4 linked regions of the Homo sapiens genome follow. The protein of the gene in region 1 purifies or fractionates together with the protein of each later gene. This does not show direct contact. Each region holds a gene or a part of one and is shown on either strand. Other genes may lie near its edges.

Evidence for each region.
Region 2: the proteins of DCAF6 (region 1) and KCTD19 purify together in Homo sapiens (affinity purification with mass spectrometry, with the first as the bait; one large-scale study listed by BioGRID). This does not show direct contact.
Region 3: the proteins of DCAF6 (region 1) and USP9X purify together in Homo sapiens (affinity purification with mass spectrometry; 2 studies listed by BioGRID, with this or other methods). This does not show direct contact.
Region 4: the proteins of DCAF6 (region 1) and GPI purify together in Homo sapiens (affinity purification with mass spectrometry, with the first as the bait; one large-scale study listed by BioGRID). This does not show direct contact.

What each region holds. Positions count from the first base shown.
Region 1 is NC_000001.11:168,002,105-168,007,036, reverse strand, and holds part of DCAF6 (DDB1- and CUL4-associated factor 6), read right to left. Parts: intron 4,556-4,932; coding exon 4,462-4,555; intron 3,168-4,461; coding exon 3,048-3,167; intron 2,505-3,047; coding exon 2,244-2,504; intron 1-2,243. UniProt on the Homo sapiens protein: Ligand-dependent coactivator of nuclear receptors. Enhance transcriptional activity of the nuclear receptors NR3C1 and AR. May function as a substrate receptor for CUL4-DDB1 E3 ubiquitin-protein ligase complex.
Region 2 is NC_000016.10:67,302,026-67,306,241, forward strand, and holds part of KCTD19 (BTB/POZ domain-containing protein KCTD19), read right to left. Parts: intron 2,547-4,216; coding exon 2,396-2,546; intron 1,313-2,395; coding exon 1,121-1,312; intron 1-1,120. UniProt on the Homo sapiens protein: Transcription regulator which is essential for male fertility and for the completion of meiotic prophase in spermatocytes. Regulates progression of the pachytene stage of meiotic prophase and promotes the transcriptional activation activity ZNF541.
Region 3 is NC_000023.11:41,217,945-41,222,160, reverse strand, and holds part of USP9X (ubiquitin carboxyl-terminal hydrolase 9X), read right to left. Parts: intron 3,790-4,216; coding exon 3,564-3,789; intron 3,060-3,563; coding exon 2,930-3,059; intron 1-2,929.
Region 4 is NC_000019.10:34,363,700-34,368,711, forward strand, and holds the start of GPI (glucose-6-phosphate isomerase), read left to right. Parts: upstream 1-1,496; 5' UTR 1,497-1,560; coding exon of another isoform or gene 1,561-1,567; coding exon 1,568-1,689; intron 1,690-2,645; coding exon 2,646-2,736; intron 2,737-3,083; coding exon 3,084-3,152; intron 3,153-4,883; coding exon 4,884-5,003; intron 5,004-5,012. UniProt on the Homo sapiens protein: In the cytoplasm, catalyzes the conversion of glucose-6-phosphate to fructose-6-phosphate, the second step in glycolysis, and the reverse reaction during gluconeogenesis.

The sequences.
Region 1 (4,932 bases):
AAATAGTCATTTTGTACAGCTGGAGAGCAACAGTGTGAGGCTGCTCTGATGCACAGTGTTGAGCACCCATTGAAATTTGTGGTCATAACTTTCTTCATTATCATTCAGTGATTCCACTGTAGACTAAGAGAAGGCAGACAATTAGGTTCAACCAGAGATGGAGCGTAGCAAATTTTCATATTCCCATTGTCCGTTTCTTTGATATCAGTAAAAATGAGGGAGGACATGTAAAGGGATAAACATTTACATAAAAAGGTATCCACAGCAAGGCAAGCATAGACAGAAGTATACTTTATCATTTTCTCTATCTCTATGCAGGGAAATAATAGAAATCATGGTCCTAAGCTGACATTTCCATCTACTACATTCACCCAATGGACAATTCCCAATATTCACAAACACATTTGGACTTAGGCTATGGCAAATGCAAAAGAGATTGGACAAAAAACAAAAACAGAAACAAATTAAGTCCTTACTCCTGAAACGTTGAACTCCAGAATAATGAAAAAGCTGTTATCAGAACAACTACAGTCATAACCTTCAGATGTTACATCTAACACCAAATCATTTTTCTCAATAGTGATAATGTCTTGATAACATGGAAATATTCTAATTATCTATAGCTTAGTCAACCAAAATTCTCTCAATAATCTCCCAGTTAAAAATATTTCCTTACTTCCTATAAATAATTTATGAGTAAAAGTACTGCATAATGTTTCAATAATCATCACATGACCACCAAAGATATTTTTTCTTCTTCAATAATTCAAATGATTGTCACATTTAATACTTACATTAAATATTGAAAGGAATTTAGCAATTTGAAATGCAGTAATTAAAATGCATTAGATAGCTTTAAAAAATAAAGTTCCAAATACTTTACTCATAAATATATTTAAGAAACAACTAGAATTAGTTGAGATTCAGTGGAAGCTGAATGTAAGCTAGAGTCTTCTTGCTAAGTTTTCCTAAAAACTTATAATTGATCAATATGTTCAAGAATATCACTTTAAAAATTCTTGCTTTTCCCAATTTTACCTGCTTTGAAAAACAAACTTTTAACTACTTCTGCTTTTAATTCCCAAATCTTCCAAAATATTTTATTTTTCCATAAATTAAAATGCTATGTCAACTGAGTGTGAAAACCTTGATTCTGTAGCTCAGCTTTAGCTTATTATTATGGATAAAATGTATACAGTGTTAACAGTTATGTAACTGACTCTGGCTTTTATTCCCATAGAAACTGAAAATGAATTACTAAAAGTGGTATATACTGATAAAAGAGTGCTTAAATTAAAACATCCCATATTTGGTAATCTGGCATCAGTTTCCAGAGATGTAAGAATAAAGTGACAGCTTGGCAGCTAAGCTGTTAGAAATTTTTTTATAGGTTTCAGCTTAGGCCTGCCAGCTATATTTCTAGTTGCTAATAATTCTGGCTCTATATTGAGTAAAATTCTTCCTTAGAAGAACCAAAGAAAACTATGAATAAATATCTTATTGGTTTTTATAATTACATGTATATAGTTTAAAGTACCGAGTAAACTGTAGATACATCTGCTGAAAATTACTATTATAAATACTAGCACATTCCATAGTTAGGGGAAAAAAGTTGACCATAAAGACTTATAATACTGAGAAAAAAATAGCATTTTAACAGAACGTAGAGGTTATTTTCACTAGCATCAAGTATCAAGAAGATAAGCATTTGGTAAAATAATTCTTTTTCATGTAAATACTAGAGAAACAAATTTTTTGGTAAATTATATGTTGTTGACAAAAGACCATATCAAATCCACCATAGAGAGTATATTAAAAGTACTGCATTATTTGAGGGAAATAATCAAGAATATAAGCAAAGTGAAACTAATACTGATATTTTCATAATCACTTTAATATAGACATAAAACCAAATAAATCTAGAAAGATATTTTGGTCTCTAATAATCTATAAAATAATATTTAAGTCAGGCACATTAAACTATGTCAAAACACTATCTTTTGGTACTTGTACTTTTAAAACAATTGTTTTATATAAATTGAAGATTCCTGCTATTTGTTAAAATTCATGCAAGTAAGACATAATTAATTTTTGTGTTTAAGTTACATAACCATATATTACATGTCATTTTGATCATTTATTCCAACAAGAAGTTGATGTGATTTAGTATCTTTCAAAATAGCCAGTAAAGAAATTTTCACTATCAAAAATCATTAGATGAACCACAGCATACTTATCCTCACCAGACTGATGATGTGTGTGGTGTCCAGATGCCTCAACAGACTGCCTTTGTTCACTGTCTGGAGAAGATAGCAAAGGAGTAGAATGAGGGCTTTCTGTGGGAGATGATGTCGAATGAGCCTGAGCTGACATTGTAGAGGATGTAGAAGGCTGAAGAAATTGTTCAGCTGGAGTATCTACTTCCATTGCAGTTTCACTCACTTCCAAATCAGGACTTGATGGGACCGTAGGAAGAGTTGAAATATCTGATTGACTTGTTCCACCTTCAAAACACATGTTAAGGCAAATTCAAATTTTAAATATTTTCTAAAACCAACAACTCTAAACAGATATGCTCAGAAAACACATTTATATTTACACACACAAATATATAATTTCAGTGATAATAACTACTGGTGATTTGGCCCATTTGACAAAATAGGCCAGTCAAGAGGGATAAAAACTTATCTACAACATATTCTTGTTAAAGCAATCAATCTTTCCTATTACATAAAACTTGTTTATACACAGAATTTTATATATTTCCATTCTCAGAGTGCATTAAAAAAAGGCTTAAAATAGGAAACCTCAGATTCTTCTACTTTACTTTGAGAAAAGCAAAAGATACGCACTAGGTCCAATGGCACCAGAAGGGACAAATTATATCCAATATCTTTTATTCTCTACTACTTCACACCACACAATAAGAACCTTGTGATTATTACAGATGTAAAACATGGTATAATTTACATGATAGAAATAAAAACTGGCTTCAATAAGTAGTTTTTGCCAGCTTTCTGATGACTTTAATTAACATTAAAAATTACCTCTGGGTCGAGATCTTCCTCGTCCTCTATTGCTTTGTGCAACCTCACTTGCTTCTTCAAACCATCTTGATAACATATCAGACATTCTCTGCATCAATGACACATTGGGACTCTGCTCTCCTATTACAATATAGGTCTTATCAGTGAGTTTAGTAATAAGTCAGAATCTTTCATTAATACAAAAACCTAGATTTGAAGGGCTTTAAAATGAAAGCATATTTTTAAAAATCAAATTTCCTAAATAAATTGTATGAATGTATATAAATCTATTAGAGCTCTCATCACATTTTATAGTAATTGTTTATATCAGTGACTTTCCATGTGTATGGTAAGGTTTCTTGAGAACAGGGCTCACCTCTCCTTCATCTTTGCCTATTCTTAGGTACCACTAAACCTCCCACTTCCTACCTCAACCTAAATTTTTAGTTCTAAGAGTACCCAGCCAAGAAAGGCTCATGAATTCTAAGTTTAATAGATTAAAAGAAAGGTTTTCCCTCTCCCTAAAGCATTATAATCAAGTACAGACACAAAATAGCCTTATGCTTTTGCATGAAGTTTCCTTAAAGTCAATTTATTTTCAACATCATTTACTGTAAGCAAATTTCAGATATTTGAAATTAACTGGAACCAGAAAGTATTTTGTCTCTTCCCTCACTCCTTTTCCTCCTGCAAGTAAACAAGTTTTTCCAAGGGTATTTTCAAATTAAAAGTGTAATGTCAAATTCAAAATGTGACAACTCTATTCTATAGTCTTATAATTTAAAATGAAAATCGGTTCTTCTTACATTTTCTGTGAAATCAGAGTTTCTTTTACACTTTATTGCCTTTATATAATGTAGCTCATATATTGGGGAATATGCTTTTGATCACAAGAGATGTTTCAGAAGTCATTATAGTAAGATTTTGGTTACAGACCAATTTAATAAAACATAATAATATAGAATTATAATTCATAGATTAATTCTATTTTCAAGTGTGCTATCTTAAAGCTCCCAGGGTTGATTCTTATGCTTATCAAAGGCACTTGATAGAAAACATTTTATGTGCTAATATAAAACCCTTGGGCTGAGTTTTCATTTCTCTTAATATCTAATAGAAAGGCAAAAACTGCAAAGTCTGACAATACCCAACGTACTATGGGGTAATGGGCATTCTTATACTTTCAGTGGGAATGTAAATTAGCACATCTTTTTTGGAGACTAATCTGATAACAACTACCAAAATTAAAAGGTACTTATCCAGTGACTGCGCCATTCCACTTCTAAGAATTTATCCTAAGATATATTTGCATAAGTATACCTATATGTATAAGAATGTTCATTACAGAATAATTTATAATAGTGAAGAAACTGGAAGTTAAAATATTAATTTTAAAATACCATATACAAAGAAAAGCTGACCAAAGTATAGTTACCATCTCGTTCTCGTTCACTCTCCGGCCTTGCTCTGGGTCCAGTATCTGACCAATCACCACGAAGTCTCAAACGCTTAACTGGTGGTTGTCGCAACTAAAAAATAAGAACGGGTAAATTCTATGTAAGTCTAAAACTCATCTACTCTCAACTCTTAAAGCATACTTTATGTCTATTTATTTCCATCTCCCTACTTCTTGAGTATGCAAATTAGATCTACATGAAAATATGAAAGACACTGGTATAAGCGTCAGTCTTTTAAAGCATTCATTCTGAGGATAAATATCCACTGATGTTGACAGCCTATATCTAATATCTTCAACCTAAAGAGCCTGAATGCAACTTTGAAATCATGTATATGTGATTTCTAATCCCACCTGTATCACCTTCCAGCTGACAAAAGGAAGATATTTTTAACCATCTTGAGCCTTAGTTTTCTATTGTGATGATAAATATAGTCTAGTTAAATTACC
Region 2 (4,216 bases), on another chromosome or scaffold:
CTCCTTGTTCTGAAACAACTTATCAACATACCTTATTAGATTAGCTTTGAGTGTGTGGTTTTCAAGGCGAAAGACCCCACATTACTTTGTTTTCCTGTGTCTGAGGCCGTGGGTGTGGCCTCCCGTGGCTTGGCCTGGGGCTCCCAAGCCAGGCCCTCCTGGTGGGCACACTGGCCCTGAGACTTACCCTGTGAGTTTTGACCCAAGAGCAGGTCATTCCAAAAGAGGGAGTTGTCTTGCTGCTTAGAGAGGAGGGGCCCGGCCGAGCCTGGGCTGGCGGGTGGCACTTGCAGTTTGTCCCTGCCTGGACTGCAGTATGGGAGGCAGAGATGGAGCCAACGCTAATGTCCTGTGTGAATCAACTTAGAGATACAGAAGCACATCACAGACAACTTTCTAGGTGACTATGAATATGAATGACTGGGGTTCCAGACATTTGGGCTCCTAGTGTAACTTGAGTGTTTACTGCCCTATCTATCTAGACAGCAGTAGCATCTTGGGGTCAAAGAGATCATTCAGTTCACATCCCAAACAGAGCTCATCCTGGGGCAGTAGGGGGAGAGAGGCTCTCTCTGTCAAAGGTGGAAAATCTCATCCTTCCTTAGGCCACTACCTCAAGTGGACAATTCTGCTATGACTCTGGGGGAACCTGTCACCATCCACCCTCCTTCCCTTTTATTCTGAGTTTGCTGACATTAAGAGCAGGTAGCACCATCCTTTGAAACAATCTGGATTCCTCATTTTATGGTGAGAGGAACTGAGGCCGGAAGACCAGCTGGATACATAAGGGCAGAGTAAGAAGAGAAGCCGACTGGCAACCAGCTGAGCTCCCTGCCCTTCACACCAACTCCTGTGGTCCCTAGCACTTTCCAGTGCCTGACACTTTTACAGCCAGGCCATCCCAAAACAAATAGGGAATAAAACAGCCCTGAGTCTAGTGAGATTCTAATGCTGGAATCTGCTTGCTTCCTGGAAGGCTCTGTCATGCTTCCGCTACCTCTGCCCAGGGAAGCTCCTGAGGCCCTGAGCACCAAGCTGGGCCTCTGTGGGACATGTGATGGGGAGGGGTGAATGGGCCCTATCAGCCCGCCCCCCACCCCACCCCGGACAGAGCAATCACCAATGAAGCGGAACTCGCTGCACTCGCACTCGATGAGGGCCACCGTCTCAGCCAGCCACAGCAGGTTGTCTTCAGTCACTAGGCTGGGATATTTGGCCACCAGGTCTAGGGGCAGGAAGCAGTAGTGCACCTCCTCTTCTGTGTCTAACAGGGGTGTGTCCATGAGCCCCAGAGGTGCCTTATCATGTAGGCCTGGAAGAGAACATGCAGGCAGTGTTGCCACCTCTCAGAAGCCAGGGATCTGATTCCAGCAGGGCTTTCACTGACCCAGGGGCCCCAGAGGATGCTAGAGAGACCCCCCAGGATATGGTCCTTGCCACTTGCCAGACACATCTTCCTTCTTTATCTTTTCAGTTGTAGCCCTAAGGAGTGTGGTAGGGAGTGGGGCATGGAAGTCTATTTTTTTTTCTTTTCTTTTTTGAGATGGAGTCTCACTCTGTTGCCCAGGCTGGAATTCAGTGGTGCCATCTTGGCTCACTGCAACCTCTGTCTCTCAGATTCAACTGGTTCTCCTGCCTCAGCCTCCCAAGTAGCTGGGACTACAGGCACGTGCCACCACACCCAGCTAATTTTTGTGTTTTCAGTAGAGACGGGGTTTCACCATGTTGTCAGGCTGGTCTCGAACTCCTGACCTCACGTGATCCATCTGCCTCAGCCTCCCAAAATGCTGGGATTACAGGCATGAGCCACCGTGCCCAGCTGGAAATCTATATTTTTTCTATAAACAGTGAAGGGCAGTGGGACATGTGACATTTTGACTTATGTATCCAAAGTCATTAAATTCATTTACCCATTTGATTCTAATTGATCAAACCAAACACAGTGATCCACAGACAAAATAGATGCTTTTGACACTCCTGGAAGCTAAAATCCATCAATAATCATAAATGCTTTGTACTCATGTCTCAGATAGGCTGAACTATGCTGCCAGGCACCCATCAGACAGTGATTATTTAGGGACATTCTGTGTGTGGTGGTTGGAGGAAACTCAAAAGAATGGTGGCATTCCCTGATGAATAGGAGGGAGTGGAATGAAACCTCGCCTTGCCCACATGAAGCCAGAATGCAGAGGAGTGAGTGTGGAGGAGAATGTTGGTTCCAGCAGGCAAGCAGCCATGGAGAGGGCCTGTGGCAGGGCAGAAGATCAAAGGAGATGACAGAGACTGCCTCAGAAATCAGGCACTCTCTGCTCTCTGGATGGAAGCCACTTCTGTTAGGGTGAGGAGAGGGAAAGTTGGTGTGGGCTTTAGGGAGGGACAGCCTATCCCAATTCACCTGTAAAGGCTGGGCTTTTAATTGGAAATTCTGAGGGTTTGCTAATACACTTCCATGTACGCCAGTAGTTCAGAGATGCTCTCTCAGCAACAGGTAGGTCTGCAGGCCGTACGCGTAGATGGTGTTTCCCTTCCTTCAGGTTATCTAGAGTCTGTTAGATAATGAAGAGTACTATCTTGAGAATCTAAACCAAGTAACTATGTACCAATTCTAGTGTGAAGATCAGGAAAAACAGTATGTGACTTACTTTTTTTTTTTTTTGAGACAGAGTCTCGTTTTGTTGCCCAGGCTGGAGTGCAGTGGTGCGATCTCAGCTCACTGCAACCTCCACCTCCTGGGTTCAAGCGATTCTCCTGCCTCAGCCTCTCGAGTAGCTGGGATTACAGGCACCTGCCACCACGCCTGGCTAATTTTTTTTTGTATTTTTAGTAGAGACAGAGTTTCACCATGTTGGCCAGGCTGGTCTTGAACTCCTGACCTCAGGTGATCCATCCGCCTCGGCCTCCCAAAGGGTTGAGATTACGGGCATGAACCACCGCGCCCAGCGACTTACTTTAAGTGTTTTGAAATAAATTAGGCAGTCACACAAAAAATGTAAAAATGTAGGGCTATAGGGTGACATGCTGATATTCAAAGTCCCAATGATTATTTCTCTTCTGATTTTTGAAACAAGTTTTGTTATAATTTTATGTTGAGTAATAGTAATTTATCTTGCACAATCTAAAGAGTAATTTCTATTTAATCATTAAAAACTTGTTATTTTCTGCTATCATTTTCCTTCAAGTGCTCAAAATCACTTTCAACCTGTTATAATTGTGATTTGCTATTGTTTGTGTTCATCCTAACCCTGGGTAGTGATCTAAGTGGTGAGATTGAGGTATAATAAACATGTCTTATATTGCCACAGGACTCCACATTTTTCAACACACTTTAACACACTTTTTCTCATTTACCATGACATGATTCTGTGAGACAGATGTGGTTGGTGAGTGTCTTACTGATGAGGCAGCTGAGGTCAAAGGCTTTGTGGCCCGCCCAAGCAGTCTTCCAAGTCCAGAGCTTGTCAGCTTGAAGGATCAGGCGACCAGAGGTGGGCTGAGGCTGGAGTGGAGCACCCCAACTAGGCAAGCCTGAAGCCCAGGGCGGTCTTCGTGCCGCCCTTACCCAGGGACCCATTCTCCCTCAAAAGTCCTGCAGGGGGCAGATTATCATAACATCAGCACCCCCTCCCTTTTTTTTTCTGTCTTTACGCTAGAAGAAGATACATAGTATTTTCCCAATAAATTTCCGGATATAGCAGGGCAAGTGGTACTTTAAAGGCACCAGATCCTCAAAATGGACAGGTGCCCCAGATTTAGTCTGAAACTAACAAATAATCTGCCTCTAAATGCTGCTATGTCAATGAAGCCCTTGTGACGTTGCTCTCAAAAATCCTGAGCATTGAGACTAGTCCTCTGGTGGCCAAGCTATAAACTGTGCCCGCATAATCACTTAAGGTCAATGCAAAAGAAGGCGGGCCAGAGTGGGAGAATCTTTCCCACTCTGGATGGCTGGAGGGTTTGCAAAAGCACTGGGCAATGGTGGGATCGTGGGGAGTGCTTTCCTGTGGCAGTGAACAATGGGGGAGACAGTGTGTGCGTGGAACGCTGGAAGACAGTCTGTCATTCATTTGAGAAATACTCATTGTGCATCACCAGGGCCACAGTCAGACACTGTGCCTGCCCTCAAGAAGCTCTCAGCTTGGGAGAGAAGAAAGATATGAAAGACCACAATTTACGTATACTGAGATTAGAGCCAGTGTCAATTATGAAGTTTCTGGAC
Region 3 (4,216 bases), on another chromosome or scaffold:
AACATTTCAAGACAAATTACTTACTGTTCTACTGTATATCTCCATTTGGGTGTCACACAGGCTCAAACTCAATCTACCCAAACTGAACTCACCCCTTTCTTCCCATACATACATGTTTCTCCTCCTGTGTTTCCCCTCAGTAAATGGTACCACTATCCACTCACAGTTGTTCATGTTAGAATTTTGGGCATCATTCTTCACATCTCTTCCCTGTCCCCTCCTTCTCTGAATATCCCATCACCAAATCCACTGATTCCACTTCTTATAAAAAGCACCATATATCTATCTGTCCACTTGTATCTCCCTCACTGCCAGTTCTCCAGTACAGGTCACAATGATCTTATGTCTATAGATCATTTTAACACTCTCTGGGATCTTACTCCACTGCAATACATTCCACACTGTGGCCACAGTGCTCTTTCTAGATGGTATTATCTGTTCAAAACCCTACAATGGCTCATCCAATGCCTCAGTCTCTCTCACAAGGCCTATTAGAACTGCATGATCAGAAACTCCTGCCATTCCCATCTTACATCAATTCTAGTCAGACTGGACAATTTTCATCCCATCCAATAAGCCACGCCAAGTTTATCAAGTCTTTGCATCTGCTGTTCACACTCTAGATGGAAAGCTCAACTAACCAATTCCCACGTTACATTCCCCATTAAGTCTTCTGCACTCCCCAAATCCCTTCAGGTACCATGCCCCCCGTGATGCACTTTGCATTTTCCCTATTATAGCTATTAACATATTTTATGGCAACTACATTATTTGCTTCTATATCCCATTAGACAATCTTATTTATTGCCATATTCCCAAAAACATAATAAAAACAGGTCCACAACCTCTTATCTGAAATCCTAAGATTCCAAAAGCTATTTTAATTTTTAATTTTTTTTAAGATGGAGTCTCGCTTTGTCTCCCAGGCTGGAGTGCAGTGGTGTGATCTCAGCTCACTGCAACCTCCGCCTTCTGGGTTCAAGCGATTCTTCTGCCTCAGCCTCCTGAGTAGCTGGGATTACACGCATGTGCCACCACGCCCGGCTAATTTTTGTATATTTAGTAGAGACGGGGTTTCACCATGTTGGTCAGGCTGGTCTTGAACTCCTGACCTTGTGATCTGCCTGCCTCGGCCTCCCAAAGTGCTGGGATTACAGACGTGAGCCACCGCGCCTGGCCCAAAAGCTATTATTATAACAAGTTTTTTTTTTTTTTTTGAGACGGAGTCTTGCCCTGTTGCCCAGGCTGGAGTGCAGTGGCGCGATCTTGGCTCATTGCAACCTCTGCCTCCCAGATTCAAGCCTCAGCCTCCCGAATAGCTGGGACTACAGATGCCCGCCACCACGCCCTGCTAATTTTTGTATTTTTAAGTAGAGATGGGGTTTCGCCATGTTTGCCAGGCTGGTCTTGAACTCCATACCTCAGGTGATCCGCCTGCCTCGGCCTCCCAAAGTGCTGGGATTACAGGCATGAGCCACCTCGCCCAGCCCAACAAAGTTTTTCATTAAGTTGCTGTCAAAATGTGGTTGGTGGGATAACCTAGCCCAAACTGACTAAAGGCTACTTATAGTCTTTATTTCTCCCTTCAGTATAAATATTCATATTTTACTGTAGAAATATTAATGTGTTCAATTGTAAGTTGTTGTCTCAGACCCTGCTATAGAGATGTTGGTATATGCACTGCCTTGCTTTTCTTAAATCCAAACAATTCTCAATCCCAATGCATATCTGATCTTAAGGACTTCATATTAAGGTTTACAGGCCCTACAGTATTTGTTTTCAGCAGGAAAATTTTACAAGTAGGTTACATTATGGAACAATGATGTGTGCTTTGTGAACAGGCAATATCTAAAAGAGTTGAACAGAATAGGATTCTTCTGAATGTCTAAATTTGGCATTTTTAAGTTTGAAATACAGATTCCACTTATGCTTGTCTGTGTAATAAATATTCTCTTTCTCATCTACAAATACCCAAATATCTGCAATTACGGAAAAGACAAGGGAAAAGAAGACAAACTAAATAGACAAATGAAAAGTACAATCTCCCTTATGTTAAAAGGGCCATGGATCCAATGGTGATTAAGTAAGATCACAGAAAAAAAACCTGAAACGACAGGTACGCCTGGATATAGAACTTCATTTTGGATATATGACTTTTTGGTTTGTTTGCTTTTTGGAGACAGGGTCTCATTCTGTTGCCCAGGCTGGAGTGCAGTGGTGCAATCACGGGTCACTGCAGCCTCAACCTCCTTAGCTCAAGTGATTCTCCCACCTCAGCCTCCCAAGTAGCTAGGACTACAGGCATATGCCACTACATCCAGCTAATTTTAAAATTTTATTTTGTAGAGATAGGGTCTCCCTATGGTGCCTAGGTTAGTCTCCTGGGCTCAAGCAATCCTCTTGCCTTGGCCTCCCAAAGTGCTGGGAGTACAGGCATAAGCCATTGTGCCCGGCCCCTAAATTAATATTTTAAGCGAGTATTTATATTATCCATAATTGTAGTTTACTTAAACAAAAACTTATGTACAGACCAAGTCTGCTATCTAAATTTGGTGAGTATCACAACCATTTGGGGACCCCTTTGAAAACATGGATTCCCTGACATTAGCTTTGGGGATGCTGATTCAATCAGTGTGAGAAGAGGCCTAGAAACCAGTATTTTCCAAAAGCAGCCAGATTTGGCACCACTGCATTAGGAGATTAAAAAAAAAAAAAAATCAAAACACAGATTCTGACCTGTGTCTACCACAAAGACACATGCATAAACAAAGTAAAAGGTGAAAGTGCCATGTTCAGATAAAATTCACAACAGGTTTTATGGGAAATTGTTTCTACTTCAGATCAGATTATATTTCATCACTTGACCTAAATGACTTCACAATTTAATATGATACATCAAAACAGAATTCTGAAAAACTTAAATTCTTACCTAAATTGGCATACATTACAAACAGGTTGAAATACTGCTGTAAATGACGCCCATGCTCTGAAACTTCCCTTCTCAAGAGATTTAGTACTGCTCTTAGTAAGTGATCACTCAAGCTTAAGTTGTCATAAGCCTGTAAAGGATAAAACATTACCTGTTTTACAGCAACAAGGTATATGTATACTTCTACTTGCATAAAAAGGACATGCACATATGCTGATACAGGCATACATTTATGGAAGGACTGATCACACAAACTAAACTATTTTGCTTCTTGGGAAAGGGAATGAAGATCAGAGGCGGATTTCATTATAATTTTTTACACTTGTAATTTTTTAAAAAAATCTAAGACTATTTAAAAAACCTTCAAAATAGGAAAAAATCTACTTAACAGTAAACTTATAATTAAGCTACTGCATGTAACCGAACAGAGAAAATTCTCTTACATTTTTAAAGAGCCAATAATTACTATTCATTGCCATGCAGTAATATTAAATGGAACTCACTGACATCATATTGTGTGTTTCTGTTAGGTAAACATATCAAGTGGATGCACATATGCTTGTGACTTCGACTTCCAGGAAACACAATTTATTTGTAAACATCTCATCATTTAGAAAGAAAGCTGTGCAATTACCTGACTAGAAGGTCCAGGAGAGGCAAAAGGTGAAGGACATGGCCCATCTTGCAAGGAAAAATGTGCAATAAAGACTATAAGTTTTGCAAACGCACCCCTCACTTCTGCACTAGGGCACTCCAGAAGGTATTCGGAGAAGCGATTTGAAACATTAAAAAGGACGTTATGAGCAAACCAAAAACGTACATTCTTGCTGTGACGAAGGAGAATACACAATGCATCATACCTAAAATAAAACAAAAAAACCTATGACTATTAAGTCAATAACTTGTTCTCTATAGTAAAAGGATGAGTCTCATTGAACCAAAAAAAAAAGACAAAGATCTTCCTCTACTGCTGGAGAGAACCAGCAAAGGTTGCTTCTAATATTAAAACAATAGATAAATACTATGACTTGGTCTATTCTCTCAGAGTTACCAAACAGGTGAAAGCTTGTCCTCTAAAAATCCATTAACAAACTCTTCCTAGATTCAATGACAAAATACCACCCCCTTATCTTGACATATTCCTGAAATGAGTAAGTAAAAATTATTAAATCAATGTATCATAATGGCCTCTATACTTTCACAATTAGAAACTTAAGAAAACCATTTTAATTTTTTACCCTTTTAATCGGTGTCAGAATTCAATCTAGGTAAGCTAAAACCTAATAA
Region 4 (5,012 bases), on another chromosome or scaffold:
GTCCCAGCTACTCAGGAGGCTGAGGCAGGAGAATCGCTTGAACCAGGGAGGTGGAGGTTGCAGTGAGCTGAGATCACGCCACTGCACTCCAGCCTGGTGACAGAGCGAGACTCCATCTCAAACAAACAAACAAACAAAAAAAGAACTCCAGTAGAACAGATACTGTTCAGCACTACCAGGGTTGTGCTAGGTGTGGAAGCTCAGTGAAATCTTAAGAGTTGACAGTTCTTAGAAAAGGGCCATGTGGACAGGGCTGTTCCCTGGAAAGTCCTGTGACCCCTCAGTGACCACTTATTTCTTTTGTTGTCAGCCTTTCCCTATTTTCTTTTCTTTTCTTTTCTTTTTTTTAAGACAAGGTGTTGCTGTGTCACCCAAGCTGGAGTACAGTGGTGGTAATCACGGCAGCCTCTAACTCCTGGACTCAAGTGATCCTCCTGCCTTGGCCTCCCGAGTAGCTGGGACTCTGCAGATATGCACCACCACATGCCCCGCTAATTTATTTTTAGTATTTTAGAAGCAGTGTTTTGCTGTCTTGCCCAGGCTCGGCTTGAACTCCTGGCGTCAAGCTATCCCACCTCCCAAAGTGCTGGGATTATAGGCAGGAGTGCCCAGCCCCAGAGTTCTTACAATGACTTACAAGGTCTTACGTGATCTTGTTGCCTCCCTTTTGCTCTCTGACCTCATCTTTTTTTTTTTTTTTGAGATGGAGTCTCACTCTGCCACCCAGGCTGGAGTACAGTGGCTCACTGCAGTCTTCACCTCCCAGGTTCAAGTGATTATCCTGCCTCAGCCTCCCGAGTTAGCTGGGAATACAGGCACGTGTCACCAGGCCCGGCTAATTTTTGCATTTTTTTTTTCAGTAGAGATGAGGTTTCACCAGGTTGGCCAGTCTGGTCTGGAACTCCTGGCCTCACATGATCCGCCTGCCTCGGCCTCCCAAAGTGATGAGATTACAGGCGTGAGCCACCGCGCCCGGCCTAGTCACTTTTTTCTTAATTGCAACCCCGATTCTCAGCACCCTTTTCATCTTGGTTTTCCTCAATAGCCCTTACCACCAGCAGACACACATCATCTGTTGTACTTGCTTATTTGGCACATATGTATCCACAGCGCCTAGAACACTGCCTGTAACGTGGAAGGTGTTCGATCTATAGAGTTTTGTCGAATGAATGAATGAAGCCGACTAGTGCACAGGGAGTGCAGCGGCGCGATGGTAGCTCTCTGCAGCCTCCAACACCTGGGCTCCAGTGATCCCCGGGCTCTGCCCACCCTCCCCACTGCCACTTCCGGGCAGAGGCCAGCAAAGCGGCGGCGCAAGAGGTAGGGAGAGAGGAGCTGAGGCCCCAGATCAGCGGCCGCGGGCAAGGTCGCTCAGCGGGCACCCGGCCTGGGTATCGGGGCGCGGGTCGGGGGCGGGGCCGGGGCTCAGGGGTGGGGCCGGGCCGGGCCGGGCCGGGCGCCTGCGCCATAAAGGCCGCCGCGCGCCCACGCGCCTCGCTTGCTGCGCGCTGCCGGCGCTCCTTCCTCCTCGGCTCGCGTCTCACTCAGTGTACCTTCTAGTCCCGCCATGGCCGCTCTCACCCGGGACCCCCAGTTCCAGAAGCTGCAGCAATGGTACCGCGAGCACCGCTCCGAGCTGAACCTGCGCCGCCTCTTCGATGCCAACAAGGACCGCTTCAACCACTTCAGGTGCGGGCGGGCCGGAGGCGGGGGCTGCCACGCGCGGCGCCCGGAACCGGGCACGCGGGCCTGGGGTCTGGAGGCGGGGGCAGCGGTGCCCGGGGACCCCAGTCCCCGACCTCCAGGCCACGGACTGGGGCCCAGGCCGAGTCCGCACTTCGTCCTTGGAGTCTCCTTGGAGTGCGTTCCTGGGGGCTTGCAGCCTCGCCGGGAGTCTCGGCCCCGGGTCTGCTTCGTTACGAGGAAAAACGGGCCCCTCCGTGGGGACATTTCCCCTCCTCCTCCCCGTGCAGCTCTGGCCATTTGAGCAGGGGCTCCTTTCGCAGTTGTGAAGAGAGGCCTTGGCTGACGCAGCAAGCGGGAAAGGGCTGTCCCTTTCCATCCGCTCCTGGCCACATGAGCTTGGGAGCGTCTGCAGGGCGGGCAGCCCGGGCGGGGGTGTTTGAGGGAGCTGGGTGGAAGGATGGAGACGTCGGGCGTGATTCCTGCAGAAGACACCTGTGCACGACCGGGAAGTGGGAAGGAGTGTTTGAGCAAATCATGGGCGGGAGTGCGGCCAAGGGAGCTCTGATCACTGATACTGGTGGAGGCGGGGGAGGGGAGCGACTGTGGCTCCGGGCTAGACGTCCCGATGGCCATCCCTGTCATCTGGATGGGTGCCTGAGTAACTTACGGCAGAAAGTGGAAGCCCTGGGAAGGGGTGGTCCCCCACTTCAGTCCGGGCTCCTCATCCAGGGTCTGCCTGCATCTACGGTCTGTGAGGATGGCTTCTTTCTCTGGGCTGCTGTTGCAGATCATCCTGGTGGGCCAGCAGGTGACAGACACCACCACTGTGCTGGGTGGCCGCGGCCCTTGTGGGGCGTGGGTCAGGGAGGATGTTTCTTCTGGGAACAGCTCCTGCTTAGGGCATGGCTCCCCGCTAGGGAGACCAGGGTGTGGTCAGCAGCATCTCCATCTTTCTGCAGCTTGACCCTCAACACCAACCATGGGCATATCCTGGTGGATTACTCCAAGAACCTGGTGACGGAGGACGTGATGCGGATGCTGGTGGACTTGGTAATGTTCTGCTTGGGGAGGCATAACTGGTAACCGACAGAGTGGTGGGTGAGCTGGGCTCCTGGGAGTCCCCAGGACCTTGAGTATCTTGAGTTCTTCCTCTCATTAGACCTCAGTCACCTCCTCTGTGCTGGTGAGGCACCTGTCCCTGGCTTAGGTTCTAAGCAGCATCCCAGGGACCCCAGTGTCTGATGTCTGAGTAGACCCTTCCCAGACAGCAGGGGAGGGAACCAGACAGCAGCCGTCTGTCTGTCTCATTGGGGACAGCACCAAGCCTTGTGTTTGGGGGCTGACACTTGGGGTGGCCAGTGTGGGTGGGACCAGGCCTCAGTATCGTCTCTTCCTAGGCCAAGTCCAGGGGCGTGGAGGCCGCCCGGGAGCGGATGTTCAATGGTGAGAAGATCAACTACACCGAGGTGAGCAGGCCCCACATACCCTCTGGGGCCTCCTTCCTTCCCTTTGGGGTTTATCTGACTGTTAGCCGCATCACCCTGTGTCTTCACCCCTTCTCTTGGGCAATGCTTTTGCTTAATGAGGGGCCTGAAGGCCTTTTTCCTCCTGCTTGTAGCAGGGCTTTGGGGTGTGCCTTCCACAAGATTGGTTTGGTGAGCTCCTTGGAATGGTTCCCAGTGTCTGCCTGGGAGGAGCATATCTCATACCCACAGGGAGAGTTTCTCAAGGCTGACATTTTCTTGGAGAAGTTAACTCTAATATATCCTCAATGCAAGTTTTAGTAGCGACAAGAAGAATCTTAGATCACCAAAGACTTCAGCCTACTCAAGCAGTAGGAGTCAATAGGAAGCAGTGGTGAGGCCAGGCCTGGGGGCCCCTGTTCCTGACTCAGTATGGGAGCCCAGCCTGGAGGTATAATGGACACTGAGCACCCAGACTCTGTCCTCATGATGTCATTATCCTCCTCTTACATGTGAGGAGTCTGAGGTTCAGAGGTCACATCACTTATCTAAGATGTCATAGCTGTAAGAGGCAGAATGGAGATTCACACTCAACCTGTCTTGCATTGTGGGTCTAAGCTGAGAGAGGATGCAATCAAGGAAGGCTTTCTGGAGGAGTGCATTTGCCAATAAAATGTGGCGCAGGAGTGGGGTCTGGCAGGGTGAGGGTGGGGTGGCATGAAGCCCTCCACCTTAGCAAGCCTCTCACTGGGTCGGAATCCCAAGATGATCCTTTTCCTGCCCACCTGGGGTCGTTAGACCTTCCCTCAAGGACTCCTCTGCTGACTTCAGGCCATTTCACTCACGTGGCTGGGCCAGCCGCCTGGCACCCGTCACAGACTTCAAGTCTGGTTTGGTTCCTGGCAGTTGGTAGTTATCGGGCTGCTTGGTGAGGGAAGCTTGAGTTGCATGCCTTGCTGCAAATCCAAGGAGCTGAGGACACTGCCTAAAACGTGCCAGCAAACACCATGGACACACATTGGGAGGATGAGGTTACTTCAGGCTTCATGAGCACTCATCTTCGGAAAGCGTTTATTTATTTATTTATTTTGAGATGGAGTCTTGCTCTGTCGCCCAGGCTGGAGTGCAGTGGTGCGATCTTGGCTCACTGCAACCTCTGTCTAATGGGTTCAGGCGATTCTCTGCCTCAGATTCCTGAGTAGCTGGAACTACAGGTGTGTGCCACCCCCACCTGGCTGATTTTTGTATTTTTAGTAGAGACAGGATGTCACCATGTTGGCCAGGCTGGTCTCGAATTCATGACCTCAAGTTATCCACCTGCCATGGCCTCCCAGAGTTCCGGGATTACAGGCGTGAGCCATGGCGCCCGGCCTCTGAAAGCATTTATTGCTTGTTTCTGACATGTATTGTTGCCATTCTCTGCCTTTGCTCACTGTTCCTCTTTTCTCTCACTGTTCATGCCCTGAGCATCTCTGGCAGGCCTTCGGGGCCTGTCCTAGGCATATATGGGTCCCCTCCTCTCCTCCTGACTGTCTGCAGCACATAAGTCCTTGGGGAGCTCCTACTCCTCTAAGCATACAGTGGGTTCTTGGAACAAGGTTATGGTGCTAACAGAGACCTCAGGGCCTGCCTGTCTAGTGGATAGAGGGCCGAGCTATGGCACCATGCCCAGCTGGGAGCATGGCTGCCTGGGGTTGGGGGGGGCAGTCTTTATATCCTGACCGTAATCCCCAGGGTCGAGCCGTGCTGCACGTGGCTCTGCGGAACCGGTCAAACACACCCATCCTGGTAGACGGCAAGGATGTGATGCCAGAGGTCAACAAGGTTCTGGACAAGATGAAGTCTTTCTGCCAGGTAAGTGGC